Homo sapiens: one gene and its partner. The protein of the gene in region 1 purifies or fractionates together with the protein of each later gene. This does not show direct contact. Each region holds a gene or a part of one and is shown on either strand. Other genes may lie near its edges. The genes, in order: NME5 and FABP3.

Region 1 (3,831 bases):
AATATGGCCGGGCGTGGTGGCTCACACCTGTAATCCCAGCACTTTGGGAGGCCAAGGCGGGTGGATCACCTGAAGTCAGGAGTTTGAGACCAGCCTGCCCAACGTGGCGAAACCCTGTCTCTACTAAAAATACAAAAAATTAGCTGGGCGTGGTGGTGGGCGCCTGTAATCCCAGCTACTCGGGAGGCTGAAGCAGGAGAATCGCTTGAACCCAGGAGGCAGAGGTTGCAGTGAGTTGAGATCGGGCCACTGCACTCCAGCCTGGGTGACAAGAGCGAAACTCTGTCTCTAAAAAAAAAAAAAAAAAAAAAAAAAAAATTGTGCCTAAATATTATATTATTTTTAATGTCATTGTGAATGGAATTTTCCTTTTTACAGCTTTATTGAAGTATTACTCATGTACACAAAATTGCACACAATTAATGTATACAATTTTTTCTCAATATGGGCAAATGTTTTATTCATATATTATATAAAGTTCATTATGCCAATTTATCAGGTACTAATCATTAAACAAAAATTTTTTTAATTTTTTTTTTTTTTTGAGACATGGTCTTGCTCTGTTGCCCAGGCTGGAGTGCAGTGGTGCGATCTCGGTTCACTGCAACCTCTGCCTCCTGGGTTCAAGCAATTCTCCTGCCTCAGCCTCCTGAGTAGCTGGGATTACAGATGCATGCCACTATGCCAGGCTAATTTTTTTTTATTTTTAGCAGAGATGGGGTTTCACTATGTTGGCTAGTCTGGTCTCGAACTCCTGACCTCAAGTGATCTGCCCATGTCAGGCTCCCAAAGTGCTGGGATTACAGGCATGAGCCACCACCCCTGGTCCCCCAAATTTTTTTTAACTTATAAGTGTACTTAAAATTTCTTTTTATTTTAAAAGCATGTCATCCTTGCATAGGGGCCAAGCTAATCTTCTCTGTATCGTTCCAATTTTAGCATATGTGCTGAAGTGAGCACAACAAATTTTTTAATAGATAAGAAATATTGTATACATTTATTGTGTACATGTTGTTTTGAAATATGTAAACACTATGGAAAGACAAATCAAGCTAATTAATATATGCATTACCTCAAATACTTATCTTTTTTTGTGGTGAGAACACTTAAAATCTACTGTCTTAGCAATTTTCAACAACACATTATTATTAACTATAGTCACCATGTTGAACTTATTCCTACTATCACAGGAATAAGTATCCTTTGATCAACATTTCCATCCCCTACTCTCTCTTGCAAGCTCCTGGTGGCCACCATTCTACTCTCCGAGTTCAAGTTTTTTTAGATTCCACATATAAGTGAGATCATGTGATATCTGTCTTTCTGTGCCTGGCTTATTTCACTTAATATAATGTCCTCCAGGTTCATCCATGTTGTCAAAAATGACAGAATCTCTTCCTTTTTAAGGCTGAATAGTATTACATTGTGTATATACACCACATTTTCTTTATCCATTAACCCACTGATGGACACTTAGGTTGATTCCATATCTTGGTTATTGTGAATAATGCCACAATGAACATTATTGTGGTTCATTGGTGCAGGTATCTCTTCAAGATCCTGATTCAATTCTTTCAGATATATATATCCAGCAGTGGGATTGTTAGATCATGTAACAGTTTTATTTTTAGTTTCTTGAGGAACTTCCATACTGTCTTCCATAGTGGCAGCACCATTTTTAATCTCCACCAAATGTGTACAAGCATTCCAATTTCCCTATATGCTTGCCAATATTTACCTTTTTTTCTTTTGATAATAGCCATCCTAACGTGTGAGGTGATATCTCACCGTGGTTTTGATCTGTATTTCCCTGATGATTAGTGATTTTGAGCACTTTTTTTTTTTTTTTTTTTTTTTTTTTTGAGATGGAGTCTTGTTCTTGTTGCCCAGGCTGGGGTGCAATGGCGCGATCTTGGCTCACTGCAACCTCCACCTCCTGGGTTCAAGTGGTTATCCTGCCTCAGCCTCCCGAGTAGCTGGGATTATAGGCACGTGCCACCACACCTGGCTAATTTTTTGTATTTTTTTTTTAGTAGAGACAGGGCTTCACTTTGTTGACCAGGTTGGTCTTGAATTCCTGACCTCAGGTGATCTGCCAGCCTCGGCCTCCCAAAGAGCTGGGATTACAGGCGTGAGCCACCACACCCGGCCTTAAGCACCTTTTCATATACTTGTTGGTTATTTGTATGTCTTCTTTAGAAAAATATCTATTCAAGTCCTTTGCCCATTTTTTAATTGGGTTATTTAGGGGTTTTTTGGATATTGATTTGTAAGAGTTCCTTATATATTTTAGACATTAACCCCTTATCAGATACATGGTTTGCAAATATTTTCTTCCCTGGAATTGTTTTCTTAATTTCATTAGTGAATTATTCATTTATTTATTTATTGAGAGGGTCTCACTCTGTCACCCAAGTGAAGTACAGCAGCGCAAATGCAGCTCACTGCGGCCTCGACCTGCTGGGCTCAAGTGAATCTCCCACCTCAGCCTCCCAAGTAGCTGGGACCACAGGTGTACACCACCACCCCCAGCTAATTTTTTTATTTTTGGTAGAGACAGGGTCTTGCCATATTGCCCAGGCTGCTCTCAAACTTCTGGGCTCAAGCAATCCTCCTGCCTCTGCCTCCCAAAGTGTTGGGATTACAAGTGTTAGCCACCATGCCAGGCTAGGGCTGAATAAATTAATGAGAGAATAAAAAGAGTGTTTTCATGTTTCTTACATGGATGAACTTTAAGTTTTTTAAGTTTTCTCTCATCCTTGTTTTATTTATTTATTTGTTTGTTTGTTTGAGACAGGGTCTCACTCTGTTGTCCAGGCTGGAGCACTCTGGTGCCATCACAGCTCAAACAGCCTTAACCTCCTAGGCTCCAGTGATCCTCCCACTTTAGCCTCCAGAGTAGCTGGGACTACAGACATGGGCCACCATGCCCAGCTAATTTTTTATTTTTTGTAGAGATGAGATCTTGCTATGTTGCCCAGGCTGGTCTCCAACTCCTGGACTCAAGTGATTCTCCCGCCTCAGCCTCACAAAGTGTTGGAATCACAGGTGTGAGCCACCACACCCAGACTGTATATTTATTTTCAAATATAATCATTTTGATAGCAGGGATATCTTCTTATTCAGCTTTGCATTTATGGCAAATAGTAGGCAACTTAATAAATTTGTTGAAGAAATGGAATATAGCAAAACTTTGAATTAGCCATTTATATTAAAAGGGAAAAGAGACCAGCCTGGGTAATGTAGTGAGACCCCATCTCTACAAAAAAATTAAAAAATTAGCCGAGCATGGTGGTACACACCTGTAGTCCCAGCTACTCAAGGGGCTGAGGTAGGAGGATTGCTTGAGGACAAGAGTTTAAGGTTGTAGTGAGCTATGATTGCACCATTGCATTCCATCTGGAGTGACATGGAGAGACCCTGTGACCACCCCCCAGAAAAAAGGGAAAGAAGAGAGCATTACTTTTTTCTTTTCTTTTCTTTCAGACAGTCTCACTCTGTCACCCAGGCTGGAGTACAGTGGTACAATCTCGGCTCACTGTAACCTCTGCCTCCCAGGTTCAAGTAATTCTCCTGCCTCAGCCTTCTGAGTAGCTGAGATTACAAGCGTGCGCCACCACGCCTGGCTAATTTTGTATTTTTAGTAGAGACAGGGTTTTACCATGCTGGCCAGGCTGGTCTTGAACTCCCAACTTCAAGTGATCCATCCGCTTCAGCCTCCCAAAGTGTTGTGATCACAGTTGTGAGCCACCACGTCCAGCCAGCATTACTTTTTTCAAGGGTTAAGAACATGCCTTTAAATATCTTGATAACTTGCTTGAGTGAATCATC
Region 2 (2,993 bases), on another chromosome or scaffold:
GAGGTCCTATTACCCTCTCCAGCTGCCACTGCCAGAGCTGGATTCCTGTAAAGGAGTCCAGGCTAGAGCCACAGAGACTGTTGTGGAGGTGAGTTCGGCTGTAGTTAGAGTGATTGGACCCTTCCTATTGGTCTGTCCTGGGCCAACTGGTGGGTGATCTCTGCTGCATCCAACATGGGAGCAGAGACTGGCAGCAGGAGGGGGGAACATGGTGAGAAGTGGTGCTCACTTTTCCCATTCCTCCTAACATAGTTCTACTATGCTAGAAGTGGCATCCAGCGGCCACAGCTAGAAAACAGTCTGCAGTGTGACTTAACTTGTGTATTGCATTCCAGCAGACCACTGAACCAGACAGCGAAGCCAAGATCATTGTTCTACTTTGTATTTACTACTGTGTGAATCAGTTGATTCTACTTCAGGTCCTTGCTTAAATTCCTGTCACTAAATGGAAATGTGTTTGGTTTTAAACTTACTGAGTTATTTTTCCTATAATCCTTCTTCCTGGGTAACTTACAGACTTAAAGTCACTGAGCCTGCATTAGCTGACAAAAACATTTAATATGTTACCTTAGACCTTGGAGAGATGCCCAGCAGAGGTACAGAGCCAAAGGCACTAGCAGATCACTGCCTTCTTGGGAGATCACTTATAAGCCCTCCCTTTTGTAATGATCAGATGCCCTCTTCCCTCAGAGTTGATTAGAGAAGCAGTAAGAATTTGTAGTCATAAGTACTAGCCTGGTGCACAGGTCAGCAGTCCTCTTGGCCAGTGGTCATTTTCTCCCACCACCATGGTACAAGCCTGGGTTCTGTGCCCTGAACCTGAATTCTGGAAAGGGAGAGACTACAGCATTTCACAGAGAACAGCCAGACCCAAGAGCTTTCAGTGTAGGATGGGCCTGAAGTGACAGTTCAATAGCCAAACCTGGGGAAGCCCCATCACTGACTGAACTAGGTCATTTGACCATGGAGGGGGGGCAGTGTAAAGGCAACGTGTAGGTACAGCTCTTTTATTATTAAATGTGTAAGGTGATCAGCTGATTAACAGGCTCCGAGACTGTCCATTTCAGTCTCCCATCCAGTGCTTCTTCCTCAGTAACCTTCAGGCCGTTATTTCTGCCCACTCTCTGACACACAGGATAAACCAAGACTCCCAGAGTTATGTTACCAAAGGCAAAAAGGCAACTGGGTGGCCTTGGCTCTGCTTTATTGACCTCAGAGCACCCTATGAGTGCAGTTAAAAAAAAAAAAAAAAAACCACATACACCATGGGAACTGGAACTGGATCCCGGTCAGTGGCACCTGACCCCAGAAGAATTCGTGGATTTGTACAAAATGCAGAGGAAGAAATGAGGCAATGTGGTGCTGAGTCGAGGGGTAGCCGATTGGCAGAGTAGTAGTCAGCAACAGTGCAGTCAGGTCATGCCTCTTTCTCATAAGTGCGAGTGCAAACTGCAGTGCCGTGGGTGAGTGTCTGGAAGGAAAGACAGAGTGAGATGGGGGGTGGAGCCAGGAACACCATTGCGAGCATTCTACCCTCCCTTCCTCCTGATAATTGTCACTTGAGTACCTACTATGTGCCGGCTATATGTATGTATGTGTGTGTGTGTGTGTGTGTGTGTGTGTGTGTGTGTATACATACATAATTTTTTTTTTCTGATATGCACAGCAAATCCTTAAGATAGGCATTGTAATTCTTATTTTAGAGATTTGGAAAAAACGAGCCTTTAGAGAGGAAGTAATTTGGTCAAGATCCTGAGTGTTTTTCCTTCCCTTATACCATTTGGCTTCCTTCATCCTTAGTGTCTAAGATGGTGCCTGGCATATAGTTGACAAATAGGAAAAATATCCAGAGACTCAGGAAAGGACTGTGTTTGGCTACTAACTCCAATCCTTCCCTAACTTAGAGTAGTGCCAGGGCCAGAGCCCTGTACCTCCCACTATCCGGTCTGGCATCATAGAGCCAGACCCATGGCCTCACCATAGTTCAGCTGCCACTGAGAATTTGGTCCTGCATATCACATCCCCACCAAAGCTAGGCACCTCATTCCAAACTTCAAGGGGACCCCTGTCCCACATGAGTACAAGAATGCAGTTAACAGGTTATGCTGACCCAAGAAGGTGTGCAGTGAAGATGCCTAGGTGAAAACCTGAGGCCCTGTGGTTAGGCAGAATCCACAGTTGGCTGCTCTCCCTGGGTCTGGGGGGAATTCAGTCAAGGCTAGATTCTCCAAGTGAAGTCCCCAAGCTTGAACAGATCTGCCAGCCTGGCTGTGGTACTTCCTACCCAAGCAGTAGTCAAGTAGTTTCAGTAGGCCAGACATAGAAAGCATGAAAATGGGGTAGGACTAGAATGGGGAAGAAAGGACTGTACTGTCATTCAGTGTCCCCACCAGTCACGAGCCTGTCCCTGCAAGTGACAATGCAGTCCTAGGGAGGAGAGGAAAGGGAATGCTGAGATAGGCAATGGGAGCCCCTCCTAGAGGGCCTGGGATCAGATTTGGCCCTGTTTTCTACTTCTTCCTGAGGTGAGGCAAGGTAGAAACACAGGAAGAGCAAACAAAGGACATGGAGCACCTGCTGTGTTCCTCAATCAGTGATGCTTTGTGCTGTGCATACACTGTCTCTTACAGGCTTCCCAGCAGCCCTACAAGGTTGGTATTATTAATACCCGTTTTACAGTTGCACTTGGAAAAGGTGATTTGCCCACAGTCATGTAGCCTATAAGGTAAGATTTGAGTTCCGGCCTGTGTGAGTCCAAAGCCACTACACAGAAAATTCCCACCTGATACCACCCTGACCCACAACCACTCTCTTGTCCCAGCTTCTACAGCTCTCAGGGGAGGACTTGGCTTTTTAGAACAGGCTTGGCTGAAAGAGCAGTAGTAATAACCAATCAGATATAGCTCCAAAGTTGCCCATCTTACCAGGATGAGTTTTCCATCAATTAGCTCCCGCACAAGTGTGGTCTCTTGCCCGTCCCATTTCTGCAGGTG

What was found.
Region 2: the proteins of NME5 (region 1) and FABP3 purify together in Homo sapiens (affinity purification with mass spectrometry; one large-scale study listed by BioGRID and IntAct). This does not show direct contact.

The regions. Positions count from the first base shown.
Region 1 is NC_000005.10:138,122,152-138,125,982, forward strand, and holds part of NME5 (nucleoside diphosphate kinase homolog 5), read right to left. Parts: intron 1-3,831. UniProt on the Homo sapiens protein: Functions as part of axonemal radial spoke complexes that play an important part in the motility of sperm and cilia. Does not seem to have nucleoside diphosphate kinase (NDPK) activity.
Region 2 is NC_000001.11:31,364,469-31,367,461, forward strand, and holds the end of FABP3 (fatty acid-binding protein, heart), read right to left. Parts: coding exon 2,925-2,993; intron 1,472-2,924; coding exon 1,418-1,471; 3' UTR 785-1,417; downstream 1-784. UniProt on the Homo sapiens protein: FABPs are thought to play a role in the intracellular transport of long-chain fatty acids and their acyl-CoA esters.